3 linked regions of the Homo sapiens genome follow. The protein of the gene in region 1 interacts with the protein of each later gene in a pairwise test. Each region holds a gene or a part of one and is shown on either strand. Other genes may lie near its edges.

Region 1 (7,872 bases):
GTTTTTAAAACACGTAATTGCTATAGATGGCTTCAGGTATTGCAAGATTTATGGTACAGGCTCTAAACTTCCTTTGTTTAATCAGATTTGTCAGCCTTCAGTGATGTTGATGATGAGATGCTCCTGTTCCTGCCTCAGTCATTTCACTGTCAGAAATAGCTTAGACTGGCCACCCGAGGTGGCTCACACCTCTAATCCCAACAGTTTGGGATGCCAAGGTGGGCAGATCGCTTGAAGTCAGGAGTTTGAGACCAGTCTTGCCAGCATGGTGAAACCTCAAATCTACTAAATACAAGAATTTGGCCGGGCACGGTGGCTCAAGCCAGTTATCCCAGCACTTTGGGAGGCCGAGAGGGGCAGATCACCTGAGGTCAGGAGTTCAAGACCAGCCTGGCCAACATGTTGAAACCCCGTCTCTACTAAAAATACAAAAATTAGCTGAGCGTGGTGGCGCAAGGCTGTTATCCCAAGTACTTGAGAGGCCGAGGCAGGAGAATCACTAGAACCTGGGAGGTGGAGGTTGCAGTGAGCCAAGATTGCCCCACTACACTCCAGTCCAGGCAACAAAGTAAGACTCCGGGCTGAGGTGGGAAAATCATGCCACTACACTCCAGCATGGGTGATAGTATGTGACTCAGTCTCAAACACAAACAAAAAGAGAAATAGCTTAAACTGGGAGGCTTCAGACACAGAAATTTATTTCTCATGAATTTGGAAAGTGGGAAATCCAAGAGCAAGGTGCCAGCCAAATTGGTTCCTGGTGAGAGCATTCTTCATGGTTTAGCCCAGCCATCTTCCTGCCGTGTCCTGACATGGTGGAAACAGGAACAGGCAACGAGCTCTTTAATATCTCTTTTTATGAAAGCACAAGTCCTATTCACGAGTAGTCAACACCCATGACCAAATTGTCTCAAAGGCCCCATCTGCAGAACATCCTTTTGGAGAATAAGAACTCTGAACATGGCTTTTGGCCAATATGAACATTCAGACCAGGGAGGCTGCATCATATTGTTTGTGTTTTTATTGTATGATTTGATTTATAAAATGTTTTCACTGATCTCAGTTTAAAAATTTTCCCAGTACACATTCTATGTTTTATATTTTGTGCATAGTGAACTAGATAATTAATACCAACTATATATATATATATATATATATATATATATATATATATATATATATAAAATTGCTGTATTGCCTGGCTGTTTCATAAATGTAGTTGTGACATCATAATTGCACCCTCTGACACCGTTAGTCAATTTTTTTTTTTTTTTTTTTGGAGATGAAATCTCACTCTGTCACTCAGCTGGAGTGCACAGGTGCAATCTCGGCTCACTACAACCTCCACCTCCTGGGTTCAAATGATTCTCCTGCCTCAGCCTTCCAAGTAGCTGAGATTACAGGCAGCCACCACCATGCCCAGCTAATTTTTTTGTATTTTTAGTAGAGTGGGGATTTCACCATGTTGGCCAGGCTACTCTTGAACTCCTCACCTCATGATCTGCCCACCTCAGCCTCCCAAAGTGCTGGGATTACAGACCTGAGCCACCGTGTCCAGCCGTTAGTCAATTCTTATTCCTTATAATGCTGTGTATTTTTTTGACCTCATAAGTCAGAAGGTAGTGATCTTAACATGTATTTCAGTTCTTATATTGTCTGCTGGTGGCAAGTAGAAGTCGTGGCATTTTTCTTAACAGGGAATTGTTTAGAATTTTGCATGTTGTATAAATGTACTTATTATTTGCTTCCTGGTTTTATGGGTTACAATATTTTACTAATTAATTTTTATGATTGTACATGAGGCTTTTCGGTATGTGGTATGCAATATAACTGACACAGTCCACTAGTTAATGTCACACAGTGCCACCGGATGCTGTGGCTCACGCCTGCAATCCCAGGACTTTGGGAGGCTGAGGTGGCTGGATCACTTGAGGTCATAAGTTCGAGGCCAGCCTGGCCAACATGTTGAAACCCTATCTCTACTAAAAATACAAAAATTAGCCAAACGTGGTAGTGTGTGCGTGTAATCCCAGGTACTCAGGAGGCTGAGGCAGGAGAATGGCTTGAACCCAAAAGGTGGAGGTTGCAGTGAGCTGAGATCGGGCCATTGAACTCCAGGCGGTTGTGACAGAGTGAAACTTCATCTCAAAAATATAAAAATAAAAAATTTGTTTAAAAATGTCAAAATGTGCCTTTTCTGCAAGGATATAGGTAATTTTATGACAGTTATTCAGAAAAACATTGTATTAACATTTTTTTTCAAGATGGAATCTCACTTTGTCACCCAGGCTGAAGTACAGTGGTGCAATCTCAGCTCACTGCAACCTTTGCCTCTTGGGTTCAAACGATTCTTGTGCCTCGTGAGTCCCATGAGTACGTGGGACTAAAAATTTGGGACTAAAAAAGATTAAAAATTACATTTTGTAATCTTTTCTTATCTTCTCAGTGCTATGATTGTTTGACAATACAGAATTTCCATTGATTTTGGTTATCCTTACATAATCTTGTTGTGGATTATTTTCCAACACAGTACATCATGTGGTCCTTTAGCATCTATTTGTATACAGTAAATATGCTGTAAATGTGAAGAATATATACTTTTCATTGATGTGACAGTGATATGTTTTTTACAAACTGTTAGACACTTTAGGGTCACGATGGAAAAATATTCCTTACTTTAGGCTACACGTTTTTGTGCCCTGTCAGTGTTTTGTCACGATATTGGAAATAGACTTCCGTAAAAATAATTTGAAGCACATGTAATCGCCCTTTATTTGTTAAAGAATCTTATGCTTTTCTGTTCCTAAACTTTGAGGGTCATGTTTGCAAAGTTTAAAATAAGTATTGTTTTTTGTGTCATATTTACACATTTCAGCATTATTTACCATCTGTACTTAATTTGAAACCTTTTGGTGTGTATACTTTTTAGATATCTCTTCCAAATGCATGATGAAGGAGTTCTCGTCAACAGCACAAGGCAATAGAGAAGTGTTCCATGCAGGGACATCTCAAAGACATGAAAGTCATCACAATGGAGATTTTTGTTTCCAGGATATTGATAAAGATATTCATGACATTGAGTTTCAGTGGCAAGAAGATGAAAGAAATGGCCATGAAGCACTCATGACAAAAATCAAAAAGTTGACAGGTAGTACAGAGCGATATGATCAAAATTATGCTGGAAACAAGCCTGTTAAATATCAGCTTGGATTCAGCTTTCATTCGCATCTGCCTGAACTGCACATATTTCACACTGAAGAGAAAATTGATAATCAAGTTGTGAAGTCTATCCACGATGCTTCCTTGGTTTCAACAGCCCAAAGAATTTCTTGTAGGCCTGAAACCCATATTTCTAATGACTATGGGAATAATTTCCTGAATTCTTCATTATTCACACAAAAACAGGAAGTACATATGAGGGAAAAATCTTTCCAATGCAATGACAGTGGCAAAGCCTATAATTGTAGCTCACTCTTAAGGAAACATCAGTTAATCCATTTAGGAGAGAAACAATATAAATGCGATATATGTGGCAAGGTCTTTAATTCGAAGCGATACGTTGCACGCCATCGTAGATGTCACACTGGTGAGAAACCTTACAAGTGTAATGAGTGTGGCAAGACCTTCAGTCAGACATATTACCTAACATGCCATCGTAGACTTCATACTGGAGAGAAACCTTACAAATGTGAAGAATGTGACAAAGCTTTCCATTTCAAATCAAAGCTTCAAATACATAGGAGAATTCATACTGGAGAGAAACCGTACAAGTGTAATGAGTGTGGCAAGACCTTTAGTCAGAAGTCGTACCTTACATGCCATCGTAGGCTTCATACTGGAGAGAAACCTTACAAGTGTAATGAGTGTGGCAAGACCTTTAGTCGGAAGTCACATTTTACATGCCATCATAGAGTTCATACTGGAGAGAAACCTTACAAGTGTAATGAGTGTAGCAAGACCTTTAGTCACAAGTCATCTCTTACATACCATCGTAGACTTCATACTGAAGAGAAACCTTACAAGTGTAATGAGTGTGGCAAGACCTTCAATCAGCAGTTAACCCTTAACATTTGTAGACTTCATAGTGGAGAGAAACCTTACAAATGTGAAGAATGTGACAAAGCCTACAGTTTCAAATCAAACCTTGAAATACATCAGAAAATTCATACTGAAGAGAATCCTTACAAGTGTAATGAGTGTGGCAAGACCTTCAGCCGGACGTCATCCCTTACATACCATCATAGACTTCATACTGGACAGAAACCTTACAAATGTGAAGATTGTGATGAAGCTTTCAGTTTCAAATCAAACCTTGAAAGACATAGGAGAATTTATACTGGAGAGAAACTACACGTGTAATGAGTGTGGTAAGACCTTCAATCAGGAGTTAACCCTTACATGCCATCGTAGGCTTCATAGTGGAGAGAAACCTTACAAATATGAAGAACTTGACAAAGCTTACAATTTCAAATCAAACCTTGAAATACATCAGAAAATTCGTACTGAAGAGAATCTTACAAGTGTAATGAGTGTGGCAAGACCTTGAGTCATACGTCATCTTTTGTGTACCATCATAAACTTCATAGTGGAGAGACCTTACAAATGTGAAGAATGTGAAGAAGCTTTCTGTTTCAAATCCAACCTTGAAAGACATAGGAGAATTCACACTGGTGAGAAACCTTACAGGTGTAATGAGTGTGGCAAGACCTTCAGCCAGACCTCATCCCTTACATGCCATTGTAGACTTCGTACTGGAGAGAAACCTTACAAATGTGAAGAATTTGAGTTTTCCATTTCAAATCAAACCTTGAAAGACAAAGGAGAATTCATACTGGAGAGAAACCATACAAGTGTAATGAGTGTGGCAAGACCTTTAGTCAGAACTCATACCTTACACGCCATCGTAGACTTCATACTGGAGGATACCTTACAAATGTAATGAGTGTGGCAAGACCTTTAGTCAGAACTCATACCTTACATGCCATCATAGACTTCATACTGGAGAGATACCTTAAAAGTGTAGTGAGTGTGGCAAGACCTTTAGTCTGAAGTCATACCTTACGCACCATCGTAGACTTCATACTGGAGAGGTACCTTACAAGGATAATGAGTGTAGAAAAACCTTTCATGGGCAGTCAGCATTTTACAAATGTAATGATTGTCACCAAGTCTTGAGTAATGCTACAACTATTGCAAATCATTGGAGAATCCATAATGAAGAGAGATCCTACAAGTGTGATAAATGCAGAATAAATGCAGAAAATTTTTCAGACATCCTTCATACCTTTGCAGTTCATGGGTGAAGTCGTATTAGAAACCTTACAAATGTGAAGAATGTGATGAAGCTTTCAGATTCAAATCAAACCTTGATAGTCATAGAATTCATACTAGAGAGAAACCTTAGCAGTGTAATGAACGTGGCAAGGTTTTAAATCAAAAAGCAAAGCTTGCACATCATCATAGAATTCATACTGGAGATAAACGTTACAAATGTGAAGCATGTGACAAAGTTTACAGTCGCAAATCAAGCCTCCAAAGACAGGAGAATTCATACTGGAGAGAAAGCTTACATATGTGAAGAATGTCACCAAGTTTTCAGTCACACTCAAACCTTGAAAGACACAGGAGAATTCCTACTGGAGAGATAGCATAAAAATGTAAGAGTTTGTGACAAGGCTTTCAGGCATAATTCGCACCTGGCACAACATCCTAGAATTCACATTGGAGAGAAAGCTTACAAGTATAATGAATGTGACAGGTCTTTAGTGGGCAGTCAACACTTGTTTACCATCAGGCAATCCATGGTGTAGGGAAACTTTACTTATGTAATGATTGTCACAAAGTCTTCAGTTACACTACAACCATTGCGAATCATTGGAGAATCCATAATGAAGAGAGATCATACTAGTTTAATAAATTTGGCAAATTTTTCAGACATTGTTCATAACTTGCAGTTCATCGGCGAACTCGTACTGGAGAGAAACCTTACAAATGTCATGATTGTGACAAGGTCTCAGTCAAGCTTCATTCTATGCAAAACATAGGAGAATTCATACAGGAGAGAAACCTCACAAGTGTGATGATTGCGGCAAAGCCTTTAATTCACATTCACACCTCACTAGACATCAGAGAATGCATACTGGACAGAAATCTTATAAATGTCATCAGTGTGCCAAAGTCTTCAGTCTGAGCTCACTCCTTGCAGGATATCAGAAAATTCATTTTGGAGATAGTTGTTCCAAATACAATGTGTATAGCAAACCATCAAGCATTAATTGACACTAGAGTCAGTTCAGCATTGACTTGAGTTTGACTTAACATTGAGTTGAAGCCTTAATTGACATTAAAGTGTTTATGTTAAGAGGACTGGGCCAGGCACAGTGGCTCACACCTGTAATCTGAGCGCTTTGGGAGGCCAGCACCGGTAGATCACTTGAGTTCAGGAGTTTGAGGTCAGCCTGGCCAACAGACGTGAGCCATTTTCCCAGCCTGTTTTTTGTTTCTTTAACAAAAACTGATAGGGATTTTTTTTTTTTTTTTTGAGATGGAGTTTCACTCTTGTTGCCCAGGCTGGACTGCAATGGAGCGATCCCAGCTCACTACAACCTCCGCCTCCCAGGTTCAAGCAATTCTCCTGCCTCAGCCTCCAGAGTAGCTAGGATTACAGGCATGAGCCACCACGCCCAGCTAATTTTGTATTTTTAGTAGAGATGGGGTTTCTCCATGTTGGTTAGGCTGGTCTTGAACTCCCAGCCTCAGATGATCCACCCACCTCGGCCTCCCAAAGTGCTGGGATTACAGGCGTGAGCCACTGCGCCCAGCCCCAGTGATAAGGATTTTTATGGGTACCGTGTTGAATCTAAATCACATTGGGTTATATAATCATTTAACAATATTAATTTTTCCAAACCATAAGTATGGGTTGTAGCTCTATGTTTCTAATCATTTTGATCAATGTTTGTAGATTTCAAGGTAAAAACCTCTGACCTTTTTACGTTTATTTCTAAGTATTTCTTACTTTAAGTTCTCCAGCCAATGGAAGTGTTTTAAAATTTTCTTTTAAAGTTGTTTGTTGTTAAAAGTATGGAAATTCAACTAATTTTTGGTGCTGATACTGTATTGTGCAAATCCACTGAATATGTTACTTAGTTCCAGTAGTATTTTGGTTGACTCTTTGTGATTTTCTGCACAGAAGATCATGTCGTCTACAAACAAATATAATTTTACTTCTTTCTTTCTGATTTCGATGAGTTTGATTTCTTCTGCTATTTAATTGCTCTAGCTAGGACAGCCAGTATTGATTGAATAGAAGGGGTGAGAGCACTCTTGCATCATGTGAGATCCTCCAGGAAAGGCATTCCATTTTCCCTACTTGATTATTCACTCATTGGTCATTTCATGGATGGTCTTTCTATTGTTTAGGTAAATTTCCTTTCTATCTATTTTGTTTAGGATTTCTATGATGACTGGATTTTGAATTTTGTGAAATGCTTTTTCTCCCTCTATTAAGATGATGTGGTTTTCATCTTTCATTCTGTTCAAGTGGCATATCACATTGATTTGCTTGAATATGTTGAACCATCCTTGCATCCCAGAAATAAGTGGCACTTGAATATCTACAATCCTTTTTACATCCTCTTGAATACAGTTTTCTAGTACAAGGGATCTTGATGAAGTTCATGGAAAAATACATATTATGAGAAAATTGTGCATGAATTTCACAGTTTTTGCACCAAATTAAACTGGTACAAGTCTGTTATAACATGTCTGAACAGGCTGTAGTTGAAGGCACTCAGAAGGATAAGACATAAGTTTGAAAAGAGACTCTATCAAAGTAAAATAAATTCTGCTAAAATTGAAACAAAAAGAAAC
Region 2 (7,964 bases), on another chromosome or scaffold:
TGTTAAAATGGTCATCAACTCCCCAAGGTGCTGGCACCACCCAGCTGCATTCCAGGCAGTGCCTATTAATGTGCTAGGAATGGCGCTGGGTGATTGACAAGCGGGTCAGTCCAGACTGGCTGAAACCATCTTCAGGCACAGGGAAAGGAAAAGGGCCTAGAAAATGATCAATAAGAGCCACTGCGATGTGTTGGCTTACTTTGTGCTGGCACTGGCCAAGGCTACACCAGGTGTATAAACACACCACGCACATGGTTTACGATGATAATGCTGCAAGGGGGCCTGAAGAGGTGCCTGAGGGAGTGGCCAAGAGCACGGCTCTGAGCCACCCAGCCTGGGCTCAAGTCCTGGCTCTGCCACTTACCAGCTGGTGACCTTATCCTCTCTGTGCCTCAGTTTCCTCAGTTTCTGTAAAAATGGCAGGATAACAGTAGTACATAAATCTGAGAGCCATTGTGAGGACTAAATGAGTCCATACATGTAAGGCATTTAGAATTGTGCCTGGGCTGGGCACAGTGGCTCATGCCTATAATCCCAACACTTTGGGAGGCCAAGCCCAGAGGATTACTTGAGTCCAGGATTCGAGATCAGCCTGGGCAACATAGCGAGACCCCATCTCCACAAAAAATAAAACAATTAACTGGGCATCGTGGTGGCCACCTGCAGTCCCAGCTACTCAGGAGGCTGAGGCTGAAGCAGGAAGATCGCTTGAGCCCAGGAATTCGAGGCTGCAGTGAGCTATGATTGTGCTCCTACACTCCAGCCTGGGTGACAGAGTGAGACCCTGTCTCTAAAAAAGAAAAAATAAAAATAAAAAATTAAAATAAAAAAAATTGTGCTGGCACATAGTAAATACTCGGTGTTAATTTATCATCATAGTTCTCATTTTAAGATGAAGAAACTGAAGCTTACAGCAATTAAATAACCCGCCTGGGGTTGGCTGCTCTGAAGACCTTTGCCTTTGCTGCCCTGTTCCTGGAAGCCTCTCATGCCCATCTTCCCGTGGCTGCCCCCTCAGGTGACTCACAAGCTGCTCAGGGATGGCCTCCAGACCACTGACCCCTCCCCTGCCCCAATCACTGTGGACCCAGCACTCTGCCTTGATCTCTCCTTCGCACTTATCACATCTGAAATTATCTTGTTCATTCAGCAAATGAGCTAATACATATAGAGCACTATTATTATTATATGTTTGCTTGGTTGCTGTCTGTCCTCATAGGGGCAGGGCCCTCACCTGTCTTGTCTACCACATGACAGGAACTCAGAGCCAGCTTCATGGGTGTGTGGCCTGCACAGTCGCCCAGGGCCCTGCACTCAGAAGGGGCTACATTTGCTTTAATGCTCTGCTGTTATTGTCTTGAAATTCTTAACAATTTTTTTAGAGACAAGGTCTCACTCTGTCACCCAGGCTAGAGTGCAGTGGTGTAATCACAGCTCACTACAGCCTCTGACTCCTAGGTTCAAAGCAGTCAAGCCATCCTCCCACACAGCTAAGACTATAGGTGTGCACCACCACATTCAGCTAATTTTTTAAATTTTTGGGGAGATGCGGGTCTCGCTATGTGGCCCAGGCTGGTCTCGAACTCCTGGGCTCAAGTGATCCTCCCGCCTCCAAGTAGCTGTGATTATAGGCACAAGCCACCACGCCCGGCCTTAACAATTTTTTAACAAAGGGCTTTACATTTTCATTTTGCACTGGGCCCCAGAAAATTATACTGATAGAGTGATCAGGGCTATAGATCAGTGAGTAAGTGAATGAATGAATGAATGAATGAATGAATGAATGAGCAAGCCTACATTCCAAACAGGTCTCTCAGACTCCATAACCCTACTACTTAACTACCATGCCAAACAACCTCCATATGGAGGAAGAGAGGTGGGCAGGGCAGTCAGAACCAGGGACAACCACAGCCTGACGGAGAAGCTAGGGTACAGGGGAAGGGAGCACCTTAGGAGGAAGCATCTGTTTGCGCTTCCTCTGGAGCCCAGCATTCTTCTCAACCTCTCATTGTCCTTGTACCTCAAGCAGCATGAAAACCATTTGCTGCCACCTAATGTTACTTTTTGGTTGCCTAAGACAGAGGGACCTTGGCTCTGCCTCCTGGGACAGATGTGGACCAGTCAGGTGCTCTTCAAAGCCACGGCTATGACAGCGCCTCGGGGCACCCAGCACAGCCCTAGGTGCCTGGACCTTGGTAAGTAAATAGATACAATCCTTGCCCTTTGTGCCTTAGGGGTGTCATCAAAACTACATGGCTATGAGGTGAGGATGGAGCAAGGAGGGACTGCTGGGCTGGGAACCTGGTGGGGTTAATCAGGGGAGCTTTCTGGAGAAGGTGCCCTTGGGCGCCTCATTTTCCACTCCCCCTGAACTCTCCTTACCTCAGCGGGCATCACACATTCTGGTCCCCAGAGGTTTTCCTTTAATGGTCTTGACTCCTAACATCTTCGGAACAGTTAAAGCCATTCCAGTTAAAATCACCCATTGATCTTTCCTCAAATTAAACTCCTCCCTCTCTTTCCCATTGCCACCCCAGGCCTGCCTCTGGCTGTTCTTGGAGCCATCCTTGATCTTCTCCCACTCTCCCCTGAACAGCAGACATCTGTTTCTCCAAACTCTCTAGCATTGTCTAACACTTCAGTTAAAGCTCTCGTCATCTGTAACTTTGTGTCCTGGTTATGTACACATTCCCAGACTTGGCCATCAACTTCTTGAAGGCAGGACTCTCCTAGATTCACCTTTAAAATGTAGGTAAGGCAAGAAGGAAAAGGTTTGGAGGAAGCAAAGTTTTGTACACATTGGATGGTCTTGGCTAAATACAGGATAGTGGAGATATACGGGGGGCTGAGGCTTTCTTATGAAAAATGCAGATGGTGGGACAGTCTTTTGAGAACAAAAATTAGTCCACATGGTGATGTAGCTAGAGACATATAAGAGAAGACTTGATAAAACAAACACATTTTAATGGGAGAAAATATTCTGAAATCACATAGCTGTGAAGGGAGTAATATCTGGAATATACAGAGAACTCCTAAAACTCAATAACAACAACAACAAAAAAAAAACCCGATTAAAAACAGGTAAAGGACTTGAATAGATATTTCTCTGAAGATATACAAATGGCTGATAAGCACATAAAAAGATACTCAATATCACTAATCATTAGACAAATGCAAGTCAAAGCTACATTGAGATACAGCCCTCACCCATTATGATGGTTACTATCAAAAAACCAGAAAATAACAAATGTTGGTAAGGATGTGGAGAAATTGGAACCCTTGTGCACCGGTGGTGGGAGTGCAAAATGGTGCAGCTGCTGTGGAAGACAGTATGGCAGTTCCTCAAAAAACTTAAAATAGAATTACCATATGATCCAGCAATTCCGCTTCTGGGTATATACCAAAAGAATTGAAAGCAAGGTCTTGAGATGTCTGTACATCCATGTTCATAGCAGCATTATTCACAAGAGCTAAAACATGGAGGCAACCTAAGTGTCTATCAATGGATGTGTAAACAAAATGTGGTATATACATGCAACGGAATATTACTCAGCCTTAAAAAGGAAGGAAATTCTGACATATGCTACAAAATGAATGAACCTTGAAGTGAAAATATTATGCTAAGCAAAATAAGCCAGTTGCAAAAATACTGCAGGATTCCACTTACATGAGGTACCTAGAGTAGTCAAAATCATACAGACAAAATAGAATGGTCGTTGCCAGGGGCTGGGGGGAGAGGGGGAAATGGGGATTTATTGTTTAATGAGTATGGAGTTTCAGTTTTACAAGAGTTACGGAGATGGTGCGATGGCTGCACAACATTATTCAGTGCTATTTCATACCCATGAACTGTACACTTAAAAATGGCTGGCTGGGCACCGTGGCTCACGCCTGTAATCCCAGCATTTTGGGAGGCCGAGGCAGGTGGATCGCCTGAGGTCAGGAGTTCGAGATCAGCCTGGCCAACATGGTAAAACCCTGTCCCTACTAAAAATACAAAACATAGCCAGGCATGATGGCGGGCGCCTGTAGTCCCAGCTACTTGGGAGGCTGAGGCAGGAGAATCACTTGAACCCGGGAGGCGGAGGTTGCGCCATTCACTGAACACCAGCCTGGGCGACAGAGCCACAGAGCAAGACTCCATCTCAAAATAAATAAATAAATAAATAAAAGGTTAAGGCCAGGTGTGGTGGCTCACACCTGTAATCCCAGCACTTTGGGAGGCCAAGGTGGGAGGATCACTTGAGCCCAGGAGTTTGAGACCAGCATGGGCCACATAGCAAGACCTTGTCTAAAAAAAATGGTTAAGATAGTAAATTTTGTTATGTGTATTTTACCACAATACAAAATAATAAATTGTAAAGAAAAAAAAAGTTTTTCTAGTCTGAATCAACACAGTTGGCATTGCTCATGCTAGAAAACCTGCGCCTCCCAGAGAAAAATGTCTGGCTTATGAGGGGTAGGAAGGGGGGAACAGAAGGGATACTAACAGGGACTGGGCAGAGAAGAACAAGAACTAGGAAGCACTAAAGAAGGAATTGAGGCCGAGTACCAAGGGATAGTGACAGGTACGGGGGCACCCACGAACAACGTTCAAACATATTTTCATCCAGTAACCTGTATTTACATGCAAATATATTGGTTTATGCAAAACAGCGGAGGCCTCGGGGGAGGGTTTTTTAGTCTCAAGCTTGTGCAGTCATTGAAAAAGAGACGCAAAGCTGTCTCTGGGGTACTCCACGTCCGCCTTGCCCCTGGGAGCTGGGCCGGTTCCAGGAGGACGAAGACTGAATTAGCTCGGCTTGCAGAGAAAGGCGAGCAGCGCCCCTACACGGAGAGTAGCGGTGCGCCTACAAAGTCGCGCATGCCCACTCCGGCCTCCCGCTCCACTCCTAAGGCAGGCGGCGAGGCTTAGTGCGCAAGCGCCATTCGTCGGCGCCGACTCCTCCCGCTAAGGCGGGAACACGCGGGGCCCAAGATGGCGGCCAGCCGGTACCGGCGTTTTCTTAAGCTCTGTGAGGAATGGCCAGTGGACGAGACCAAACGGGGCCGGGACTTGGGCGCTTACCTGCGACAGCGGGTAGCACAGGCCTTTCGGGAGGGAGAGAATACCCAGGTGACCGGCGGGGAGGCGGCTGGGACGAGGGGAGGAAAGGACGAGGCAGGGGCGGGGCCAACGAGCGCGCTAGCAGGGGGATCTGCGCATGCGCGCGCCCTCTTTCCAGGCAGCACGTGAGCGCGGACCCCCTTTTTCCCCCAGGGAGCTACTGATAGCGACGCCCGTTGTATTCAGCGCTCTCCCCCGGCTGCACCTTGGAATTGCCGAAGAAGCTTTTTTTAAACTCCAGATGGGCCGGGTGCGGCGGTTCACACCTATAATTCCAGCACTCTTTGAGAGGCCGAGGCGGGAGGATCGCTTGAGCCCAGGATGACCTCCTGGGCAACATAGTGGGACTCCGTCTCTACAAATCAAAAAACAAACAAAAACTTCAAATGCAGAATCTCTAGGGGTGGGGTCTTGACCTCAGAGTTTTAAAAGCTCTCCAGGTGATTCAAGGTGCAGAGAGAGTTGAGACCCACACCACCAGTGGCAGCTGGTGACAGCCTCAGCTTTTTGCTTCCTTGTCACGGTAGCATTACCTCATTATTTCGCAGTGTTGTGTATTGACTGAGCTAATCCCCAGTTAACTCTGCAGGTCCCCGCTAAGCGTTTGCGTTCTTCCTGAGCCCCTGTAAGCCTGTGCAGCAGGTTTGGGTCCTCAGCTCACGCAGCTGTGTGTGAGTAGTAGGCCTATGTTCTTGCTTTCCTCCAGGTTGGCGCTGCAGCTCTGGGATTCATTCATTCATATAGCTCGTATTTATTGAGCACCTACCATATGCCTGGAACGGTGCTAGGGAAACAGCAGTGTTAAACAGGTGAAGTCCTGCCCGCATGAAGTTTTACATTGTAGTTCAGGACACAATAAGCAGGTAAGTGTACGTAAGACAGATAAGTACTGTGATCGATAGAAAATAGGGTAGCGTGATAAAAGGGTAATGTTATTAGTGGGGCCTTTCTGAGGAGATGACACATAGGTGAGACCTAAGGCAAGAGGATGAGCCAGCCATGTACACTTGGCGGGAAGGACATTCCAGACACTGCACATGTCCAGAGGCAGGAGGCAGATTGACATGTTTGAGGACAGAAAGAAAGCCAGAATGGCTGCAGGGTAGTAAGTAAGGTGGAGTTTGCTAAGGTGAAGGTCCGGAGCCAGGCACAGTAGGATATTATCTGTTCTGATTAGCTTTAGACCTCATTATAAGGCCAGTGAGAAGTCACTGGGGATGTTTAGTGAGGGGACTGATGTGCCCTAATTTACTTTTTAAAAGACTATTCTGGTTGTATGTGGTGAGTGGGCTATAGGGGGCAATAACAAAAAAAGAGGCTGGAGAGAAGCCGATTATGGTACTATAAGCGACAGATGGTGGGGGGTTGGATGAGGACGGCAGCACAGAAGATGGAAGTGGTTGGATTCAGGTTATGCGCAGGTTGAGTCAGCAGGACTTGCTGATATATGGGATGTGGGATAAAGGAAAAGAGAGGAACCAAAGATAGCACCTAGATATTTTTTGGCCTGGGCATCTAGGTCTAAGATGGTGCCATTTACTGAGGTAGGAATAGGTGAAGTGTAGGAAGAATATCTCGAGTTCGGTGTTAAGCAGGTTAAACCTGAGATGCCAAGTACACTGATTTCCAAGTGGCAATGTCAAGTAGGCAGTGCTATATTTGAGCCTGGGGCTCGGGCAAGAGACCAGAAATGAAATGAGATAATGAGATGCATATACACACAGTCTGAAGAAATGACTTGTGAAACTTGGCCAAGACTTGTTACAGAAGGAACATGGGTTTTTTTTTTTTCAGCTTAGCCCGAAACAGAGCCAAGCCAGCCCACCTAAAGGAGCAGGAGCACGCCCAGTGGCATCATTGTGACTGTACTGCTGATTGGCTGGCAGCCTGGGGAGTGTCTGGCCCAGGTTATACGATACCCAGGGCCCTCACATTATTCATGGTGGTCTTCACTGGCCCAAAGTGTAAAGATCTTTAAGGCAAGAATCTTATCTAGTCCCAATTCTACAAACCCGTGAACTTTCTAAAGCTGTACTCCCTGCATATTTTTAGTATGAGCTTCCTGAAAATAGAGATGATGCCATTTTTATCTTTCCCTCTCTCCCCTACGAGTGTCTAGCTAGTTCTTGGCCCATAAAAAAACACTCAGTAAATGTCTGAATGGATAAGTAAATAATTGGTTGTGGCTCATGAGACAAAGATAATTTGAATATAGTTTCAGATGTAGCAGAACTAGATGAAGAGAAGTTGTGAAGAGTGAGAAAGGAATATTTGTGTGTCCTGAGTGGTGAGAATTGATTTGAGAGCTTACCATGTTTGGGAAATTGCAGGATCTATGGAGGAAGGCCATAACCTGGCCTTCACCACTGAGGAGCTTACAGTTGAGCAGTCAGCGGCTCCATCCTTGGGGAGGTGAGAGAGCGTAACATTCACTTGCTTGATTGTTAGTGTAAGAGGAGCCAGCAAAGGAGGAAAGAGTTTTCTCTTTCGGAGTTGTCATCACCTAGGGCAATCGTTTCTGATCAGTCAAAGGCCCACACAGGTTTGAGTCCCAGCTGCAGATGCAACTCATGGCTGTGTTAGTGATTCTGTAGCAGCTGATGAATGCATTCCTGGTAGAGTGAACCAGTGCACAATGGCAGCAGGTGCATTACTCAGGACCACTGTTGCGGTACCTCATCCTAATGTCACCTGAGAATGCACCTGGCCTTAGTAAATCTTTGTGGTAATTTTTGAAGGGCGCAATTCCTTGCTGGAATTGAAAACACTATTGTGAGTCACTCCTACTGACACCCCCAGATCATTTATAAAGACCTTGAGAAAGCAAGATGATTCTGGTAGGCTCTTCATTAAACTG
Region 3 (7,776 bases), on another chromosome or scaffold:
TAGACTGAGAAGTCTTTGAAGGTGAATCATTCTTTAAGAGATTCTATAACTAAGCCTGCACTTTAAAATATTGTTCATACATCTTCCAAAAACTAAAAAGGAGAAATTAAATGCATTACCTAGTTGAGACAGCAAACCGATAATACTTAAGATCAGTGAAGCACTTATGTTGGGGTCTTCAAGTAGCTCTACAAGGCAACTCAAGCATTCACTTGTTAATATCTGATTTGATGTAAATAGTCGTGTGAGTTTCTGTCCAGAAATTACCTATAAAATAGTAATCAAAATGTGTTGGTTAAGCGATGGCAATTTTCATCTCTTCTCCATTTCAAATAAAAAACTCAGTTCCCTCAAAGTGCCACTGCTACCTTCCCAATTTAAAAAATTCACACATGCTGTGAAAAATTCACCCCTGCCTAGAGTACCCATCAATTACCTAATCCCTCCCTCCCTAGCTAAAGTAATCATTTGGATCTCAGTTTAAAATAATTTCCACCAGGAAGCTTTTCTTAGTTTCTTATACCATCTCAGTTCGGTCGGCCTATTATGCTATCCTATAGTACATTATATTTCTATTTCCTAAGTTAGCAAACTTTTGAGTTCCTAGCAATATTTCTCCTTCACACTACATTGAACATGCGATGAAGGCATAGCCTACAAATCTGCACTCTAGTACCAATATATTTACTATGCAAATAAATTCTAATACATTCTACTTACTTTGAGGGAGGAGAATGAAAAATGAAGCCCAGAGGGTAGTTATGGGATTATTCCTTCTGCTTCTTCCCAAAGACAATAGGTGAGCTCAGAAGTTAAGGGATTAAAGAAGGAAGTGAAAAGTGAATCTTTTTTTAAGTAGCCAGGCAAGGCATTGAAAAATTTTATTTCTGATTATTCCATTGTTTTTTTTACTTTCTTGTAATCTATAAGCCACATACACGCATGCACAGACACATACATACACACACACACACACAGAGTGAAAGAGAGAAGAGAGGAGGTAAAGCTGGAACTAAAGGCCAAAAGCAGTTGTCTCAAAGCATGAATTTTCAACATACTTTATGGATGTATTTATTACAAAGCATATCTTTTCTACAAAGATGGCAAAACCATTAGTTACCTTAGAATAAGACTAACTCTGTCCTGAATACTTATTTTAATAAGATCAAGCCTAAGCAGGCTGCTTTAGCATCCCTCTAATCTTTCCTTTCTGTATCCTCCCTTTATTCTCTCACCCACATCAGTTTTTCTTCTAAGGCTTTGCTGATAAGAGTTTCACATTATCTGTTCCCAAGGAGTGTTTTAACATTACTAAAGTAAAAGTCTATACAAGAAAAAATAAGTCCAAATATGAAAGTGCAGATGCCAGTAACAGATATTCTGGGGTAGGAAATACTGTGGGCATTACCCTGTTGCTTATTTATAAATCTAGCTCTCCAGAATAAGACACTTGCTGTTTTAAAAATGATTCTCTATAGGATTGGTCCTGTATCTCATTAACATAAATTGTCTAACATGTAATAATTATATGCACTAGGTAAAATAAAAATTGCTTTACAAGTTTTCCCTTTACTTATACTGAATCTCTTAAAACAAAGATAATTTATTTTAATAATAACTAATACTTATACAGCACTTACTCTGGCCTAGGCATCGATCTAGGCACTTTACATATGTGAACTCTTTTCATCTTCATAATAACTCTATAAGGTAGGTACCACTATTTTGTTTTGCAGATGAGTAAACTGAGGTACACACTGATAGTAAAGAAGCACAACTGGAATTCATATCTAGGCAGCTTGGTTCCTGAATTCATGCTTTTAATCACTACACAAAATTAGTGTTATGAAACATCATCATTAAAAATCAGATTAGCTCAGCTTTGCCAGTCATCAAACATTCAAAGCCTACACTCTGCATGGGGCTATAAAAGTGTGGGAGAAGTACAGAAGAATGAATAATCTCCTTTCACATGATACCCATCTCTCTTTGCATACTCAGATCTCGCTCTCATGAAGTCTGTACAAAGACATTCACCATTAAAAATACAAATACTGTCAACCAAAATGGTTAAAATTAAGAAATATGAAAACATCAAGGGTTGGTGTGGATAAGTGATGGTAAATTTCACATATTGCTAGTGGGAAGATAAAATGGCATATTTCAGAAAATTGTTTGGCAGTTTCAACTAAAACGGAACATATAGGCATATGTTCCAATGCTCTAACAATTCTACTCCTAAGTATATAAATGTGTGCATATATCCACAAAAAATGTATGTCTACAACAGCTTTATTCTTAATTCCACCCAGAAATGTAAACAACCCAAATGCCTATCAACAGGAAAGTGTATGTAAACTGTGGTACACTTATACAATAGAATTCTACACATCAATAATAAAAAAAATGAAGTAGCGGTACATGTGCAACATGAATTTCACAGATTTTATTGAGTGGAAAAGGCCAGACACAAGAGTACATATTGTATGAGTCTACTTACCCAAACCTTATGTGAAGAGGCAATGAAGAAACCCTATGGGGCTAGAAATGTTCTGTATCATGATACAGGTGGTAGCTACTCTACCTATATGTTAGCTACCAATATGGTAGCTATGGTACCTATATATTAAAAACTATCAAACTCTTCACTTAAGATTAATGCACTTTATGCTCTGTATGTATTTTATCTCTTAATTACAAAAAGTCCTTTTTAGTAGTAACCTGAAGCCAGTGCTCTTCATACCTTTGCAACAACGGTAGAAGAGTTTTATGTAAACCCCTTGAAAGTTTAGGAATACAGTAAAGACCCCATCCCATATTTTGTTTAAGTCTCTCTTTTTTTTTGTTTTGTTTTTGAGACGGAGTCTCACTCTGTCACCCATGTTGGAGTGCAGTGGAGCGATCTCTACTTATGCAACCTCAGCCTCCCGAGTTCAAGCGATTCTCCAGCCTCAGCCTCCCGAGTAGCTGGGACAACAGAGAGACGCCACGCCCAGGTAATTTTTGTATTTTTAGTAGAGACGGGGTTTCGCATGTTGGTCAGGCTGGTCTCAAACTCCCGACCTCAGGTGATCCGCTCGCCTCGGCCTCCCAAAGTGCTGGGATTACAGGTGTAAGCCCCTGTGCCTTAAATCTCTTTCAGTGCACAACCTTCCTGTTTATTCAAAGAAAGGTAATGCTTCAGAATAGCATACAAAATGCTTAACTCCCGATTTTTAAATTAAACGGACTGCCCTGCTTATTCTGCGGCTTCTGGAGCCTATGCTAATTCAGAAGCAAAGCCTTAAGCATTTAACAGCTAACACCTTAATTATTAGGTTTGCAGGCACTTCTTAAAATAAAGAATGAAAAAGAGAAAACAAATGTACTTAGGAGATGGGCACTTGAAGTAGGGAAAAGAGGAGCACCAGTGAAGCTCAAGATAAGACAGACACATTTAATACAACAGCAGCTTCACTAACAGCTGCTGTTGCTCTACTACTGGAAATCATTTTTTTCCTGTAATATTTTACAAATTTTTGGCACATTAGTCTTTTATCATAGGGTTAATATAATACAATATATTTTAAAATTATGTTCAATTCTACCTTAACAGAGGAAAGCTGTGACACAGAGAGTTAAAATAAGCCTTAATTGAGCTTTAAAAAAATTAAACTGAGGTCAATGTTAGTTTGAATTCCGTAAATGCAAAACAAATGAAAGCAGAAGATTAAGATCCTAAAACAAACGGAATCGTCTGGACACATATCACTAGAATAGAAAAAAAGGCAATTCAGCATTCTAAGATTAAAAAACTGTAAGCAATGTATTTTGGTAAAGAAAAAGGATTACGCTTACTAGGAAGGGGAAGTGCTTCTTAATGTTGAAATAATGTTTTTCAAGTTTGAGTTCAACCCGAGTTCAAGTAAGAGCAGTAAGCAACAAATTCAATTATAGATTACCGAAGGGCAAAACCAAGTTTTAATCATGACTTTCCGTCACTGAGAATAGTTGTGTATTGAGGGCTTGGTTTCGTAGAAAAACCAAAACTAGAAGCAAAGGAAAAGATAAAGTTCCGAGCTTTTTCCGTTACCTACTCGAAACAACCTGAACTTCCCAACCTTTTGCCCCACTCCCGCTTTTCCTAGAGCCTTCAGTGAGCGCTCTTGCCTCTCGCTGCGGCCAGCGGAACCCCGACACTCACTAGCCTTTACCAGTACGAAAAGACAACAGAGGGATCGAAGGACTGTCCTTTCTTTCCCAGGCTGGGGCCGCCACTCCTCGGCCTCACTGTGAAATAAGAATTGCTAGGGGAAGCCCCATCTGTCCTCTACCCCAGAGCCTCTCACCTCCAAGTGCCGCAAAAGCTGAGTGGCGTTCGCCTCTGACTTCACGGCTTTGTACTGACTGACAGTCAGGAGCAAGGACTTCAAGCAGGCAGTGGAGTCCATTGCACCGGCCGCGGCCCGGCTTAGGGACCACCACCGCCCAGCGTGCGCCGGCCTTTAGCTTTCGCCGCGCTTTTTTTGATTTTCGGCCCCACCCCCTCGCTCTCAGAAGCTTCCGGATCCGGTCGGGCTCCGGAAGTCCCTAGGCACCCTAGGGGACCGTTCTCGGTGACGGCCGGGGTGGGCCAGGGGTCGAGGTGATTTGTGGGTCCAGGACGGGGGTTGGGAGCTGCCCCCGCTAACCCACCCTCGTCTGAGAGGCCGCGAGGTTTCGGCCTGAGATCCCGTGAAGGCGAGAAATCTCGCGATTTCTCGGGAGAGGAATCGGTTAGGAGAAGGGGGATTCCTCACTCAGCTGTGCGCTCTGATTTCGTGCGCTTCCTCGTCCTTCATGTTGGATGGCCAGTTTTTCGTTTGTGCGTCATCCTCTACCTGAGAAATGGTCGCTTGCCCCTAGTCTAGACACGGTGAGGAGCTCTGAGGAGAAGAATCTTGGGCCCTAGATTTTGAGGCGGCCTGGGAGGGGCCTCGTTTTTAAATCTCTCCTACACCCGCCCCTTCTGCCCGGGGATGGTAGTTTCTCAGAGTCAACCTATTGGCATTATGTGGCAAATTAGTCATGCCCTGACCAAAGTATTTGTCACATTTATTCGAGAAGACTACCTCCTGCTGACCCTGGGCCAGGTATTGCTCCGGAGGGTGTTACTCGTTAGCGTCAGTTTTTGTAAGTGAAGGTGTCTGTTTCTCTCTGGCATGATTGATTGTTTTATAATTCTCGATGTCTACGAAAATGGCACTATTATTTGCGTTTTTTAAATCGGAGATAGCTTAATATTATTGCATGTGTATGTAATGAAGCGAGTCAGTTACTGGTTTTGGAGCTTTTTGCTTAATATTTCCTAACGTCGAATAAAGCTTTAAAAACCAGGATGTAGAAATTGTAAGAATAGGGTACATTTCCATTTAATTAAATCGTTTATCAGAAATCATGTTTTTTCACTTCAAAAGAATTTTTTTGAATTACTAGATTTTTGAAGACAGGTTTGGTGTTTTGGTTTTGTTTTTTATAAAAGTTTAAATCTGAAAGATAAAAATGATTTAACCAGTTGGGACATTCATGTAAAAATCTTTGGGTAGCTTGTGTGTTCATTTATGCTTTCATTCATTCCGTAAACAATTATAGAGCGTGTAACATGGGTTAGAAACTGCCAGTCAGGGAACAGAGATGAAGTAGTATCCCCTGCTGCGAGGGAACTGTCTAGTAAGGGAAACATACAAAATAGTACTTTTGAAATTCACCACATAAATGAGAGGCACCATGCAGTAACATGCAGCAGTGGTAAAGAGTAGAGAGCCAGGTTGCTTACAGATTCTAGCTCCACCTTTGACGATGTGACTCTAGGCAAGTTCTCACTGCTGCAGAATCTTCATTAGGTAAAATCTGGCCAAGGGAGATACCTGGTTCATAGGACTGTTCATTCAATAAGTAGTTCATTGAGAATCTACAATGTGCTAAGCACTTTTCTAGACACAATAGACTCAGTGAAAAAAACAAAAATACTACTGGCATGCAACTTACATTTTGGTAGGGAACCAAATAATAAACACAATAAATAAGTAAGGAAAATGATATAAAGAGAAAAATAGACGTTATTACTCTAGAATAATGTTGGTAATTGATAAGGGAAATGGGAAGGTGACCTCATTAAGAAAGCAACATTTGGGGAAATGCTTCAAGGAGTTGAGAAAGGGAGCCATATTCTATGGGAAAAGGTTTTTAGATAGAGGAAATGGCAAAGAAAGACCCTAAAGTGGGATACTGTATGCCAGAAACAAGGATGCCATGTGGCTAGTGTAGAAAGAACGAGGAGGAGAGGAGTAGAGATGAGGTCCTATACGGTCTTGGAGATGGTTAAAAAATGAATTAATGTAAAGTGTCAGCTGTCATCTGGCATAATTAAGTTCTCAGTGTTACAGTCAGTGCCTCATTGGCAAATGAAGTGATCAGAGTTTGATAGTGTTGGACTTTTCATCTGTGATGATGTGTCAGCATCGTCCCCATTCAGAGGCCCAGGGTAATGCGCAAAGCTGCGTGCTATCAGTGCCATCTTTGTTGGATTTTGACTTAAGCAGTCATACAAATTTTGTATTCTCTTCTGTAATTAATATCAAATGTCTTTCTCAAAAAATCTTCACCAAAATTGATGTTGTAAGTTTAGTAAGAGGGATCGTTTCTAGCTGTGATAAGTCTTGACATTTTTAATCAGAGATACTTGCATATCCTAATTTGAGAAACACCAATCCATACTTTTAGGCCTCAAAAAGGGAAGAAAAGGAGCAGGAGGCCAGGAGCAGTGGCTCACGCTTTTAATTTCCAGTTTTTTGGGAGACTAAGGCAGGAGGACCTTGAACCCAGGAGTTGGAGCCAGCCTAGGCAACATAGTGAAACGCCATCTCTACAAAAAATGAAAAAATTAGCCGGGCATGGGTGTGCTCACTTGTAGTCCTAGCTACTCTGGAGGCTGAGTTGGGGGGATCACTTGAGGCTGCAGTGAGTGTGATTGTGCCACTGCACTGTAGCCTGGGTGGCAGAGTGAGACCCTGTCAAAAAAAAAAAAAAAAAAAGAGATGAGTCTGGGTCCCAATGACCAAAGGCCTTATTAGCCTTAAACTTGGACTCCATCTTGAAGTCCGTGGCAATCTCTGGTTTTAAACTGGCACCTGGTCTAGTCAGGTTTGTTTTTAGATTGATTACTCTGGTAGCTGAATGAACTATGATTTTGGGGAGGATAAGACTGGAAAGAGGGACACTAATTTTCTGGAACCTTCTAAAGGATAACCAGGATAATTGAGGTGGAGATACAAAATAGGTGACAAATTCGAGAAGTATATATGAAGTAAAATAGGTAGGATTTGGTGACTGATAGTGGATGTGAGGCATGAAGAGAGGGATGAGTCTAGCAGATACTAAGTTTTTAGGTTGGATGAATGAGAAGATACAGATACTGCTGAGTTAGTTAATAGAAAGTATTAAGGGTGTGCCAGGCGTAGTGGCTCATGCCTTTTATTCCAGCACTTTGGGAGGCTGAGGCAGGAGGATCTCTTGAACCCAGGAGTTCAAGACCAGCTTGGGCAATATGGTGAAACCCCACCTCTACTAAAAATACAGAAAATTAGATGGGTGTGGGTGGTGCATGCCTGTAGTCCCAGCTACTCAGGAGGCTGTCATGGGAGGAACACCTGAACCTGGGAAGTCAAGGCTGCAGTAAGCCATGTTTGCCCCACTGCACTCCAGCCTGGGCAATGTGGGCAACAGGAGGGAGACCCTGTCTCAAAAAAAAAAAAAAAA

The links.
Region 2: the proteins of ZNF765 (region 1) and UQCC2 interact in binary tests that used the Homo sapiens proteins (3 or more experiments, as listed by UniProt).
Region 3: the proteins of ZNF765 (region 1) and DZIP3 interact in binary tests that used the Homo sapiens proteins (3 or more experiments, as listed by UniProt).

Annotation. Positions count from the first base shown.
Region 1 is NC_000019.10:53,404,769-53,412,640, forward strand, and holds the end of ZNF765 (zinc finger protein 765), read left to right. Parts: intron 1-2,929; coding exon 2,930-4,359; 3' UTR 4,360-7,241; downstream 7,242-7,872. UniProt on the Homo sapiens protein: May be involved in transcriptional regulation.
Region 2 is NC_000006.12:33,708,701-33,716,664, reverse strand, and holds the start of UQCC2 (ubiquinol-cytochrome c reductase complex assembly factor 2), read left to right. Parts: upstream 1-4,964; 5' UTR 4,965-4,978; coding exon 4,979-5,116; intron 5,117-5,215; exon of another isoform or gene 5,216-5,357; intron 5,358-5,417; exon of another isoform or gene 5,418-5,630; intron 5,631-5,813; exon of another isoform or gene 5,814-5,970; intron 5,971-6,901; exon of another isoform or gene 6,902-7,086; intron 7,087-7,964.
Region 3 is NC_000003.12:108,584,946-108,592,721, forward strand, and holds the start of DZIP3 (E3 ubiquitin-protein ligase DZIP3), read left to right. Parts: upstream 1-4,776; 5' UTR 4,777-4,894; exon of another isoform or gene 4,895-5,151; intron 5,152-7,776. Other genes in the region: protein CIP2A, read right to left, coding at 120-267, 4,329-4,430. UniProt on the Homo sapiens protein: E3 Ubiquitin ligase proteins mediate ubiquitination and subsequent proteasomal degradation of target proteins.